Homo sapiens: one gene and its partners. The protein of the gene in region 1 purifies or fractionates together with the protein of each later gene. This does not show direct contact. Each region holds a gene or a part of one and is shown in the gene's direction. Other genes may lie near its edges.

Region 1 (3,500 bases):
AGACTTCGGGTATATCCCTATGTGTCTGTAGGATAAGGTTTTTTTTTTTTGGTTTTTTGATTTTTTGGGGTTTTTTTTGAGACAGAGTCTCCCTCTCTTGCCCAGGCTGGATTGCAATGGCGCGATCTCGGCCCACTGCAACCTCCGCCTCCCAGGCTCAAGCGATTCTCCTGCCTCAGCCTCCCGAGTAGCTGGGATTACAGGCACCCGCCACCACACCTGGCTAATTTTGTATTTTTAGTAAAGACAGGGTTTCTCCATGTTGGTCAGGATGGTCTTGAACTCCTGACCTCGTGATCCACCCACCTCAGCCTCCCAAAGTGCTGGGATTACAAGTGTGAGCCACCGCACCCGGCCCAGGATGACGTGCTTATTATTTGACAGGTGCATGTGACACTGTGACTCCGGCTGTGACCTGATGGGGCCTCAGGGATGCGTCTGGCTCTGGCAGGATGTTTGTGTGTCACCGCGATGTTGTGTGGGTGTGTCTACCTGTGCCCTGCTCTGAGGGATTGAGTGTGATATCGTGTGTTTGTGCTGCGCTGTGATGGGTATGTGGTTCTACGACCTTCACTGTAATTCTCTGAGACTCCCTCCTGAACGTTGCTGAGAATGTGACAGTGGCCTGTGTCACCCTCTGGCTGGTTTCATCTCTGAGGCTGTGCAGCGGGGCGGCACTGCATGGCCTTCTGTCTGTCCCTGGGTGTTTTTGCCTGTGTGACGGTGTTGCGCGGTCAGTCAGGACTGGGCGCTATGGCAGCTGCCCAAAATATCTCCAGCTGCCTGCCGCGGGCCAGGCCCCATCCCAGGGTGGGGTGTGGGTGGAGTTTGGTCCATCCTTGCCCTTGGGAAACCCATGTCATGGAGGGATGGAAAAGGCCTGTGAAAACCTCCTCTGTGTCTCAGACGGTGTTGGACCTCCAATATCCACCCAGGATCTTACCCCCAAATCTAATCCCTCAACCCAAATCTGATTCATCAGCAAGTACCCTCACAGCTCCTAGCCCCATGGGAGAGAAAAAAAGAAGAGAAAACTGTCAAATACATTGACATGATTTCTTTCTTTCTTTTTTTTTTTTTTTTTTGAGACGGAGTCTCACTCTGTCACCCAGGCTGGAATGCAGTAGCGCGATCTCGGCTCACTGCAACCTCTGCCTCCCAGGTTCAAGCAATTCTCCTGCCTCAGCCTCCCGTGTAGCTGGGACTACAGGCGCCAGCCACCATGCACGGCTAATCTTTGTATTTTTTTTAGTAGAGACGGGGTTTCAGCATGTTGGTCAGGCTGGTCTCGAACTCCCAACCTCAGATCATCCACCCCCCTCAAGCCTCCCAAAGTGCTGGGATTACAGGCGTGAGCCACCGTGCCCAGCATGGACATGATTTATTTCTTAATTAATTTATTTATTTTTCTGAGATGGAATCTTGCTCTGTTACCCAGGCCGGATTACAGTGGTGCGCTCTCGGCTCACTGCAATTCCGCCTCTCAGGTTCAAGTGATTCTCCTGCCTCAGCCTCCTGAGTAGCTGGGATTACAGGCGCCCGCCACCACGCCCGGCTAATTTTTGCATTTTTAGTAGAGACGGGGTTTCACCATGTTGGCCAGGGTGGTCTCCTACTCCTGACCTCAAGTGATCTGCCCACCTCGGCCTCCCAAAGTGCTGGGATTACAGGCGTGAGCCACCGTGCCTGGCCTGGCTGTGATTTTAAAAATCATTATTATGGACATGACAATGGCTGATGTGATTTTTTTTTCTGGAGAACCCCAGGTGCACAAAATTATATTAATCAGACCCTGCCCCCCATTCACTCTCAAACTGCTTTATCTATTTTGTTCATTTTTAAACTAGTTATTTCTTTTTTTTTTTTTTTTTTGAGACGGAGTCTCGCTCTGTTGCCCAGGCTGGAGTGCAGTGGCGCGATCTCGGCTCACTGCAAGCTCCGCCTCCTGGGTTTACGCCATTCTCCTGCCTCAGCCTCCCGAGTAGCTGGGATTACAGGCACCCGCCACCACGCCTGGCTAATTTTTTGTATTTTTAGTAGAGATGGGGTTTCACCATGTTAGCTAGGATGGTCTTGATCTCCTGACCTTGTGATCCGCCTGCCTCAGCCTCGCAAAATGCTGGGATTACAGGCGTGCGCCACCGCGCCCAGCTTTAATTAGTTATTTCTAATGGAGGCATACACTCTCACAACTCACTGTCTCAACTCACTGTCCCAAACAAAAGCCAGAAGACAATGACCCCTATCTATCAAGAGGTTAATTAGAAGAAACAGAAAATAGAGGCTGGGCACAAAGGCTCACACCTGTAGTCCCAGCACTTTGGGAGGCCGAGGGTGGGAGGATTGCTGGAGCCCGGGGGGGTCAAGGCTGTGGTGAACCATGATTGCATCACTGTACTCCAGCCTGGGCAACACAGCAAGACCCCATCTCAAAACAAACCCACAAACAAAAACCTCACTTAACAAGAAAAAGAAAGAGGAAAGGAAGGAAGGGAAGGAGGGAGGGAGGAAAGAGGGAGGGAGGGAGAGTGGAAGGAAAGAAGGAAGGAATGAAGGAAGGAAGGAAGGGAGGGAGGGAGGGAGGGAGGGAGGAAAAATAGATACAGCAGACATAAGGGGGAGAATTGCTGATGACCACGCCCCAGCCTCTTCCCCAGTCCCTGGTGACAGGTCACCCACTGAGCATTTGAGAGGTGGACTTCCCTACCATGCTTCCAGGACATTGATAAACACACAATGAAACAAGGTCACACAATATTCCCTGCTTTGTAAATAGACTTTTCTGTCCCCCATTTTACAATACTCACCAGTCACCACCGTTTCTGGGAAATAAATATATATGTCCATCTTTTTCTCTTTTTTTTTTTAGAGACAGGGTCTTGCTCTGTAGCCCAGGCTGGAGTGCAGTGGTGTGATCATAGCTCACTGCAGCCTTTAACTCCTGGGTTCAAGTGATCCTCCAGCCTCAGTCTCCCGAGTAGCTGGGACCACAGGTGTGCACCACCACACCCAGCTAATTTTTTTTTTTTTTTTTTTTGTAGAGGTTGTGGCGGTGGAGGACGGGGGTGAGTCTTGCTGTATTGTCCAGGCTGGTCTCAAACTCCTGGGCTCCCTTGATCCTCCTGCCTTGAACTTCCAGAGCACTGGGATTACAGCCATGAGCCACTGCACCTGACCCACCATTTTTTTAAACACCTGCAGAGAGTTTCGTTGTTGGGTTGGACTATAATTAATAATGTGATTCAGATAACAGTGCTAAAATGTGTCTAATTCCTAGTTAGGAGAAGTGCTTTGAGAAAGAGTAATAGGGGTGGTGGGGGGAGGACAAATTTAGATGAGAGAGGACAGGGAGGATGTTTCAACTGAGACCCAAAGAAAGAAGAGGAGGAAGAGCATTCCAGGCAGAGAGAACAGGCAATGCCAGGGCCCTGAGGCTGAGACATGCCTGGTGTGTTTGGGAAAAATGGGGGAAGTTCAAGTTGCTGGAACACAGTAATTGG
Region 2 (3,500 bases), on another chromosome or scaffold:
ACCAGCAATTTATGAGTTCACTTTTCCACATACCCATTATAGTAATATATGCTAGAACTATGTTCATTTTTGTCAGTCTAATGGGAATAAAATAATATCTCATTTATACTTTAATTTGCATTTCTCTACATTTGGAGCAGTTTTTCATACTCTTTTGGCCATCTGGATCTGTTCTTTTAATTGAATATTCGATTTTTCTGTTGAATTGTTCATCTTGTCAATTTGTAAGAAAATTTATATATTATAAAAATTAGCCCTTTGCCTGTCATCTGCATTATGAGTATTTATCTGGTATTTATCTGTTGAATGTGTTTATATTACCTTTTGCTAGAGAAAATATTTTTTAGTAGTCAGAAATGTTTGTTTTCTTTTTTAGAGACAGGGTTACCCAAGCTCTGTTAACCAAGCTGGAGTGCAGTGGCGTAATCACAGCTCACTGCAGCCTTGACCTCCTGGGCTCAAGTGATCCTTCTGCCTCAGCCTCCTGAGTAGCTGGGACTACAGGTGTGCACCACCATGCCTGGCTTTTTTTTTTTTTTTTTTTCACTATTGCCCAGGCTGGTCTCAAACTCCTGGGCTCAAGCAGTCCTACCACCTCAGCTTCCCAAAGTGTTGGGATTACAGGCATGAGCCACCACACTTGACCTAGTTTTATTTTATAGCTGCTGGTTTCCAGTCTTGGTTAGAAAGTTTTTCTTAGAAATATAGGGGATTACGGCCGGGCACGGTGGCTCACACCTGTAATCCCAGCACTTTGGGAGGCCGAGGCGGGCAGATCAGGAGGTCAAGAGATTGAGACCATCCTGGCTAACATGGTGAAATTCTGTCTCTACTAAAAATAGAAAAATTAGCTGGGTGTGGTGGCGTGCACCTGTAGTCCCAGCTACTTAGGAGGCTGAGGCAGGAGACTCACTTGAACCCGGGAGGCAGAGGTTGCAGTGAGCCAAGATCGTGCCACTGCCCTCCAGCCTGGTGATAGAGCAAGATTCCGTCTCAATAAAATAAAATAAAATAAAATAAAATAAAATATAAAATAAAATAAATATAGAGGATTACATGTATAATACAAGGATTGGGGCTTTTTTCCGACAAGAATATAATAAGTTTGTGATTTTTTAAAAATAATTTTTGTATGACTGTTACCTAGACCAATGTTAGGTGAATTTGGGTAGTGATGAGAGACATAGAGAATAATTTGAGAAATATTTAGGGATAGCATCTGCAGTAGAATTTGGAAATTTTACAGAGATGAGTTCTGTCTGCCCTTGTGCCATGCAGGTTTTCAAAAATAGGAGGTTTCATGTTAAAATTTTGATTTTGTCTTTTCTTGAAAGTCAGATCTGGCCATCCGGGGCCTGCATTCCCTACTGGCCCCGTTCGAAGATAAGCAGTTACCTGCTTCAGACAGGGCATGCACTTCCCAGTTTGTTCAGTCCCCACAAAGCCCTCTTTCTGCCCAGCATTGATCTGGGAGCCTGGAGCCACTTTTCTTGGAGGTTGCACTTTGTTTTCTTAGCGTTGTGAGGGATATGCATGCAGTATTCTTACACTAGTGACTCTCAAAAATGGACTGAACAGGTGTCTGAAAGGGCTGCAAGGATCAAGATACCTGTGAAGCATAGCTGCTGTAGGCATTAGCTTGTGCCTCGATCCATGGGACTTTGATGGACTCTAAGAAGCCCTTGTGAAAGTTACTGATGATCTCCTGATTTCAGTCCCTGTATTACTGGACCCCTCAGCAGCTTTTGATCCTGATACCTGATTTTGAGACTTTGCTGATTCTCCTTTCTCTCTTGAGGGTTTCTTGTTTTCCCTTCCTCCCCGGGTTGTGCTAGTAGCTGCTCTCAACTACTCACACTCCCTGGGGAGATTCCTACACTTCCTTGATTATAACCACTACCTGGGGACTCCCTAATACTAGGCTGTAACCTTGACTTTGGCCTGAGTTCTCAGCTTCTGACTCGTGGAGCTGGTTGCCTCTGGACCACAGGAATCTCAAACGCATCATATCCAAATCCAAATGTCATGGTCAGTCCCTCCAACCCCTCCTCCTCTTGTCTTACATCCTATCTCAGAGATAGTCCTAGAAGCCAGGCCATTGATTTGGGGATCCTAGACTCATCCCTCTTCCCAGCCTTCATTCCCCCTTCTGTCAGTCACCAAATTTCTGCTAATTTTACATTCTAAGTATTAGCGAATCTTGCCGCTCTTCTTCTGTATCTCTACCCACTGCCTTGCTCAGGCCTTTGTTATCTTTTAACTGGACAATTGCAAGGGCCTTCTTCTAACTGGTCTCCCTGCCTACAGTCTTGCCTCCAGCAAATCCATCCTCCAATCCTGATGCCAGAGTGATCTGAAATGCAAATATGATCTTGCCACTCCCCTGCTTAAAACCCACCAACCGCAGTGGTTCTGTAACCACAGTGTAGCCTCTGACGTGGGCTGAAAGTAAGTTGTTACTACTCCTACTACTACTGCTACTATTAGTACTACTATTTCTACTAATATAAATACTAACAATAGTAGCTAACATTTACTGAGCATTTTCTATTATGCTTTTGAATGATTTATTACCTTTTTAAAACAAATCATAGCCAATTCAATGTTTTCCAAATTGTACCAGTCTCATTTGCTTGGGGTGAAGGAGAGGGGCAGAGTTACAGGCAGCAGGCACCTGAAAAATACTCATAACCATAAATGATCTTATCACATACCCTAGTGAGTGACCATGATGATTTAGCCTGAAGAGTTAAATAGGAATTACCATAGTCCTCATAAACAAAGATTTGCTTTTAAGGGAGGGTGTCAGTCATCTAGATCTTGAATATGTCCCTGAAGTATGTGGCACGTGGGAATGTCCTCAGGCTCCTGGGTATCAGTAGAGCGGGGAAAACGACTGCAGACATGCAGAGTCAAGTCCAGGCTTGGCCTGTTGTGCAAAACTGTCCATGATCTGGTCCCTGCCCACCTCTGCTCCTCCTGCCACTCCCTTCCTTGTGCATTTCACTCTAGCACAATGAAACTGTATGTGATACTAATCATGGCTCACCCTTACTGAGGTCTCCTATGTGCCAAGCACTGTGCTAAGTGGTTCTCTGCCGTGTCAAAATCTCATGTAAACCTCACAGCAACCCTACGAGGTAAGTCTCGCTTTCCTCCAATTTTATAGAGGAGGAAAGCGAGGCTCTGAGAGGTGAGGTCAACTGAGCTGACCTGGCTAGAGTTGTCAAGTGGGCCGCCCCCCTCTGCCCCTCCCTGCACATGTTCTTGCGTACCTCTCACATCTGCTTACACTTCGCGCTCCCTCTTGTGCCCAGGTAATGCCCACTCATCCTCAGGACTCAGTTCTTATGCTGCCTCCTGGGAAGGCCTTCATGGACACCTCCTCTGCCCCCAGACTGGGCTCAGTGTCCCTCTGTGGCACTGAGCCCCTCTGTGGCCGATGAGCTGCCCTCCAAGCACCACGCTGGAATGTATATGTTCAGTCTGTGTGCTCCTCG
Region 3 (3,500 bases), on another chromosome or scaffold:
CCTTTGAGACCTAGTTGGAAGGGCAGAGATAGGGTCTCTGAAAGGAATAGTGAATGACACCTGTATTTTTTGGGGAAACTTCATTGAACAAGAGTTCCATTATAATCATTTTCTCTTCACAAGTAACCTCTTCCATAACAGCAGGAATTTTACATGAGTTTAGATCATTCCTCTATGGGAGGGATTTGGTTCAGAAGTGCAGTTGATTGGAAGTACTCATAAGTGAGTTTCTTGGGGTTTGGTAAAGAGTTTCCTTATTTGGTAAATACATTTTGGCAATCTAAGCCTTTGAGTCTTTGGAGCTATGAGTGTGTGCGTGCTGGGAGGATTTTTCTGAGTATGGGAAGAGTTTGTCATGGCTGTTGTGTTTGTTCCCTAGACACGGGCATGTGTTGTACATACTCAGAACCTCTGGGCAACTTTACTGGAGCCCACATGTTATTTCTCTTCATGGTTTATTGGATTTAACAAGTTATAAAGTAGTCGTCTAATCAAATGGTTGGGTATCATGCAGAAAACACTAGAGCTGAGCCGGCTTGCAGATTTCACCTACCAGCGTGAAACAACCTAGCATAATGATTAGAGTGCGAACTTGAGCCAGACTGCTTGGGTTCACAGCCTTGCTCTACCATTAACTGTAGACGAGCAACTGAACCCTCTGCTTCAGTTTCCTCAACTGCAAAATGAGGATCACAATAGACTACCTTGTAGAGTGGGATGACTGAATGAGTTAGTGGATGTGAAGTGGTAGAACATAGGTAACACTGGGTAAGTGTTGTTAAATCGTTGCCACTAGTGTCATTGACTGATTAATTAGCTGGGAGGGTTGCCTGGGACATTGTTTTAAGACAGATTCTACAGACAGGTTTGGGCTCAGCAGAAATCAGAATTTGATCAGTAAGAGCTGCCATGCCACAGATGTGGGAGGGGCTAGTGGCACCTGAGTCTCATGGCTTAATCTGTGTTTGGGTTGATAAAGCCCAATGGCAAGACCCACGGGGCTGAATCCATCTTTCAATAGATATGGAGGCCACATTTGCAGAGTATGAAGAATGGTCAGAAGACCCAATACCAGAGTCAGTAATTCAGAACTATAACAAAGCACTACAGCAGCTGGAGAAATATAAACCCTATGAAGAAGCACTGGTAAGTGTTGGCTTCTTTTATAGTAAACGTCTCTCTACAAACCTTTCCCTGATGGATAGTTGCGAGTTAAACAGTATCTTTAAAATGTTTTATTCTGAAATATATAGAGTGTATAAATGTATACGTACAGTTTACATACTAATAATAAAGTGAACATCCATGTACCTACCACCCAGGTTAAGAAATAGAACATTGCCAGTACCTTAGAAGTCTCCTATGTGCCCCTCTCCGATTGCCTCCTCCTCCCTCTCCCGAGAGGTAATCACTTTCCTGACTTTTGTGATGATAATTCCCTTGCTTTTCTTTATAGTTTTACAAGCTATGAAAGTATCCTTAATTAATATATTGTTTAATTTTGCTTGCTTTTGAACTTTTATATATTGGAATCATGCTGTATATTTTATTTTCATTGAACATGCTTTTGGGTTTTACTCATGTTGCTAAGTATAACTCCGGTGCATTTGTTTTCACTGCTGTAAAGTTGTCTGTGTACTGCGATGTATTTATCCATGTTGCTGGATAGTTGGGTCATTTCCAGGTTTTTGCTAGGAGAAGGAGCAGCGCCACTCTGAACATTCTTGTGTGTATCTCCTTGTACACATGAAAAAGAGTTTCTCTAGAATACGTACTTAGGAATGACTTTGCTGGATCATAGGGTGATGTTAAAGTGTTTTCCAGGTTATCAGTTTGCACTGCTGTGAGCAGTATCTGAGAGTTCTCGTTGCTTGTGCCAATCTTGGATATTGGTCATACTTAAATTTTACTTAATTTGATGAATTTGAAATTGTAGTTTTAATTTGTATTTTCTTGGTTACTAATGAAGTTGAGCATCTTTTCACGTGGATTGGCCATTCAAATTTTTGTGCGTGTTAAAGTGTTCAGGCTGGGCACAGTGGCTTATGCCTATAATCCCAGCACTTTGGGAGGCCAAGGCGGGAGGATTGCTGGAGCCCAGGAGTTTGAGATCAGCCTGGCAGCGTAGCACAACCCTGTCTCTACCAAAAAAAAAAAAAAAAAAAAAAAAAAAAAGCCGGGCTTGGTGGCATGTGTCTGTAGTCCCAGCTTCTCCAGAGGCGAAGGTAGGAGGATTGTTTGAGCCCAGGAGGTCAAGGCTGCAGTGAGCTGTAATCATGCCACTGCATTGTCACCTAAGTGACAAAGCAAAACCCTATTTCTTAAAAAAAAGTCTGGGCCGGGCGGGGTGGCTCATGCCTGTAATCCCAGCACTTTCGGAGCCCAAGGCAGGTGAATCATGAGGTCAGGAGTTTGAGACCAGCCTGGCCAACATAGTGAAACCCCGTCTCTACTAAAAATACAAAAAATTAGCTGGGCATGGTGGCGGGCGCCTGTAATCCCAGCTGTTTGGGAGGCTGAGGCAGGGGAATCGCTTGAAGCCGGGAGGTGGAGGTTGCTGTGAGCCGAGATCGCACCACTGCACTCCATCCAGCCTGGGCAACAGTGTGAGACTCCGTCTCAAAAAAAAAAGTCTTTGACCCATTTCCCTTTTGATGTATCTTTTTTCTAATTGATTTGTGGGAGTGCTTTGTCTTAAGTCTTATTTTAGGCTGTATGTGTTGCAGATTTTCTCCCCAGTTGTTTGTCTTTTCACTTCTTTTTTTTTGAGACTGGAGTTTCGCTTTCACCCAGGCTGGAGTGAAGTGGCGTGATCTCGGCTCACTGCAACTTCCGCCCCGCCAGGTTCAAGCGATTCTCCTGCCTCAGCCTCCCAATTAGCTGGGATTATAGGCCCTTGTCACCAAGCCCCGCTAATTTTTGTATTTTTAGTAGAGACGGGGTTTCGCCATGTTGGCCAGGCTGGTCTCATACTCCTGACCTCAGGTGATTCACCTGCCTCAGCCTCCCAAAGGGCTGGGATTACAGGCGTGAGTCACTGCAACTGCCTTTTCACTTTTTTATTTTTTAACAGTGTCTTTTGATGAACAGTTCTTAGTGATCAATTAGATTAAAATTCTTTCCCTTTTGGTTGTGCTTTTGTTGTGCTTATTTAAAAAATATTCCCTACTTAGCTCTAATTTCTTCTAAAAGTTTTATAGTTTTCTGTTTCATATTTAGGCCCTCATCCACCTGGGATTGATTTTTGAGTGGTATGAGACTGCGTCTGGTTTCATTTTTCCATATGGAGAACCAGTTGTTCTAGTACTGAGTTTGATCATTCCTTCTTCCCCTCACTGATGTGCAGTGCCACATCTGTCATAGATTAGCTGTCCATTTATGTGTGGGTCTTTCTTCTGGATTTTCTGTTCTGTCCCACTGGTTTATGTTACACTGTTGTAATGATGAGAGTTATAATGTTTTGCTCTTGGATAGGGTGAGTCCCATCCACCTTTTTCCTC
Region 4 (3,500 bases), on another chromosome or scaffold:
TTGGAAAAATTATTATTAGTTTTATTTTATAAAATGATATGTGAGAATATACAGTAACACTGAAGGCCTGCCAGTTGTAGGTTATGTTTAAAGTACTCAAAGAGAAAAGTAAAGTTCTGTGTGTTTATGCTTTCAAATTGGTGTGTTTTTAGAAATATCTGTAATTGCATTATATTGTAATTCAAAATTTCCTCATTTAAATATAACTTGAATTTTGTTTTATGTAAAATTGTAATGCCTCATGATTTTTACAAATAATTCCTTTCCTCATTGCTCCTAGGTGAAGTTGTGGTATGATAAAGTGGGACACCAGCTGATTGTAAATGTTCTGCAAGCAACAGATCTACCTGCTAGAGTAGATGGACGTCCTCGAAATCCCTATGTAAAAATGTATTTTCTTCCAGATAGAAGGTAGTGAATAATTTTAGAAAAAAAAAATCTTAAAATCTGTACTAATAGAAAAGGTAGAATTTTCTCTTTTGGGATGTTTTTAAAAAATATAATAGATAATTCTGAGGAGATAAAAGTACATTATCTCTGAAAAAAGAAGTCCCTCAAGTGTTGGAAATTGTGTTGGAAATATTTGAAAATAATCTGTCAATTAAAAAAATCTATTACCTTGTTTATAGGTATATTAGTCTTTGATAGCGACACATCATTTAGAATGTACCTTTGTATGTGTCCCTATAATTACAATACTGCTTATATTGTAACTGAAGTTAGAATATTATTAAACTCTATTATCTTTTTATAGACTTTCCATGAGTTATTAGTTAAAATAATATAAATATCAATGGCAGTTTTACATGTAACTACAGTAGATGGCAGCATGTACTTGCTTTTTCATTTACAAAACATACTTATTTTTCAGTGATAAAAGTAAAAGGAGGACCAAAACAGTAAAGAAAATACTAGAACCAAAATGGAATCAAACTTTTGTCTATTCACATGTACATCGTAGAGATTTTAGAGAACGAATGTTAGAAATAACTGTGTGGGACCAACCAAGAGTGCAAGAAGAAGAAAGTGAATTTCTTGGAGAGGTGATGTATATTTTAAAAACTCAAGTCAAATAGTTAATAAAGTTTTGTGATATTTATTATGATTACTATTACATTATGTTTTGATAAAGGTACTTGATTTAATTTGAGAATTACCCTCTCAGATCCTCATAGAATTGGAGACAGCGCTTTTAGATGATGAACCGCATTGGTATAAACTTCAGACACATGATGAGTCTTCACTACCTCTGCCTCAGCCATCACCTTTCATGCCAAGGCGACATATTCATGGAGAAAGCTCTAGCAAAAAGCTACAAAGTAGGTTAAGGTCCTTTTAGTTGCCACAAAGTAATTATGCTGTAATGATCTAATTAGTGATTAATAATTCAAGATGTTTTTTTTAAATGTTTTATTAGAGATCAAAATACTGGAAAATTGTTCATCTTTATGAAGCAACTTGGCAAAACTGTTTCTACATTTTCACAATGAAAATAATGTAGATAGCATAGCAGAGTAATTGCAGAGCTGCAAGCCAAAAACCTCTGAATTAAAATTCTTGCACAGGGCCAATTGAGCTGTTGGTTATTGACTGATGGAATAATTTCTGTCATCACTGGTGAGTTGCCACCTGTGAAGTCTTAATAACTTTATAGTTCAAAGATTTTTTCTCCCCCCACCGAGAGAGAGTCTCACTCTGTTGCCCAGGCTGGAGTGCATTGGCGTGATCTCGGCTCACTGCAACCTGCACCTCCCGGGTTTAAGCAATTCTCCTGCCTCAGCCACTGGAGTAGCTAGGATTACAGAAGTGCGCCACCATGCCTGGCTAATTTATTTTTGTATATTTAGTAGAGATGGGGTTTCACCATTTTGGCCAGCCTGATCTTGAACTCCTGACCTTGTGATCCATCCGGCTCGGCCTCCCAAAGTGCTGGGATTACAGGTGTGAGCCACCATGCCCAGCCAGTTCATAGATATTTTAATAGTTATTCATAAGAAATGTTGTTTAAAATATTAGAAGGTATGTTTATTGCTATTCATCTAGTGATTGGGAAAAGCTATTTTTTTCTGTACTTATTGAGTAATTTTTGTGTCATAACTACATTTCTAAGTTAACAGCTGAAAGAAGCCTCATTTTGGTAATCTGGAACTAAATTATTTTTCTCACATAATTAAATATTTCATGTTGATGCTTCCCTGATCAGTAATTTCCTCAAAGTTAATGTTTAATGAAGTATAATGACTAATTTGGGGAGCTAAACATAAATATTTTATAAAGGGCCCTGATGTTTTTTCATTAATATAGGCTGAATAGAGCTCCAGCCAAGAAATGTCTCTGAACCTTTCCACTCAGCCCTATTCTCTCTGAACTGCAGAGGAAAGCACTTAATTGTGTAGAAAACAATGTACTGTATATACTGTGCTGAAGGCTTTTAGTATAATATTTTAATTAAAGAATTAATCTGAAAATCTTATTCTGTGAAGTCCCCTTGTTTCTATATGTCTTTGGTGTAATGAGGAAAAAAATACTGATAAAATGTTATCCTTAGAGAACAAACATTTCTTTTAAAATTAGCTCAGTGTTTACTGTATTAGTCTTCATAAGTTTTCAGTAATAATGCAATTCACTTTTTAAAAAAAGTTTGACAGTGCTCTTTACGTTTCATAAACCAACCAGACACAGAAGTATCTCTTTGCCTTACTGTTGTGCAGGATCTCAGCGAATCAGTGATAGTGACATCTCAGATTATGAGGTTGATGATGGTATTGGCGTAGTTCCTCCAGGTGCGTGGGTGAGGAGCATGACCCTGCTTCACTGTGCTGCTTTGCTTGTTTTCTCTGTCAGCTTCCGGACCTCTTTAGGATACTAAACTGAAGATTTATAGCACAGAGAAATCAGTATTATATTATTCCATGGTGACTTACATTTCAAATTATTAAGAAAGTTTTAAATGGACTAGTCTCTACTAATTAGCATTCCCATAGTGAGGTTCTTCCGTAGAAACATGTCTAACTAGTGAAACAAATCATTATTTCACAATGCTCTGAGCGTAAGTGAAAATACGAATTTTATTTTGAAAAGATGGGGTTATTAAATAAAAATTCCATTTTTCTGTGTTTTATATTTGCATTTCTATGATTTTCCTTCCACCATTTCTGAAAATAATGTAGCCCTCCATGGAATATACTGAGAAAGGTGCATGGCGGGGTTTAAAATTGCATGTGGCATGGCTGTAACTTTTAAAGCTTTTGTGATGTGTTCCCACTGATTATACCTAGAATGTGTGTATATGTTTTAATACAATAATATGTTTAAGAAAGATTAAGTATTAATTTGAAGTGAACATCTCTTTGTCATTGTGTAAGTTAGTAAAACTTTTGTGATGTTGTAGGGTTTAAATGTTTCTCATCTGACTTCTGTCAGAAAAGTGTAAAATCAAGTGGTAAAGACTTACTTTCTTGGCACTAATTCTATACTTTTTAAAAATTTACTAATGAGAG

The links.
Region 2: the proteins of ELAVL3 (region 1) and MOV10 purify together in Homo sapiens (affinity purification with mass spectrometry, with the first as the bait; one large-scale study listed by BioGRID). This does not show direct contact.
Region 3: the proteins of ELAVL3 (region 1) and SART3 purify together in Homo sapiens (affinity purification with mass spectrometry, with the first as the bait; one large-scale study listed by BioGRID). This does not show direct contact.
Region 4: the proteins of ELAVL3 (region 1) and RIMS1 purify together in Homo sapiens (co-immunoprecipitation; one large-scale study listed by IntAct). This does not show direct contact.

Annotation. Positions count from the first base shown.
Region 1 is NC_000019.10:11,460,547-11,464,046, reverse strand, and holds part of ELAVL3 (ELAV-like protein 3), read left to right. Parts: intron 1-3,500. UniProt on the Homo sapiens protein: RNA-binding protein that binds to AU-rich element (ARE) sequences of target mRNAs, including VEGF mRNA. May also bind poly-A tracts via RRM 3. May be involved in neuronal differentiation and maintenance.
Region 2 is NC_000001.11:112,684,659-112,688,158, forward strand, and holds part of MOV10 (helicase MOV-10), read left to right. Parts: intron 1-2,307; exon of another isoform or gene 2,308-2,448; intron 2,449-3,500.
Region 3 is NC_000012.12:108,540,674-108,544,173, reverse strand, and holds part of SART3 (spliceosome associated factor 3, U4/U6 recycling protein), read left to right. Parts: intron 1-1,021; coding exon 1,022-1,146; intron 1,147-1,329; exon of another isoform or gene 1,330-1,362; coding exon of another isoform or gene 1,363-1,404; intron 1,405-3,500. UniProt on the Homo sapiens protein: U6 snRNP-binding protein that functions as a recycling factor of the splicing machinery. Promotes the initial reassembly of U4 and U6 snRNPs following their ejection from the spliceosome during its maturation.
Region 4 is NC_000006.12:72,250,050-72,253,549, forward strand, and holds part of RIMS1 (regulating synaptic membrane exocytosis protein 1), read left to right. Parts: intron 1-280; coding exon 281-411; intron 412-871; coding exon 872-1,043; intron 1,044-1,165; coding exon 1,166-1,319; intron 1,320-2,711; coding exon 2,712-2,783; intron 2,784-3,500. UniProt on the Homo sapiens protein: Rab effector involved in exocytosis. May act as scaffold protein that regulates neurotransmitter release at the active zone.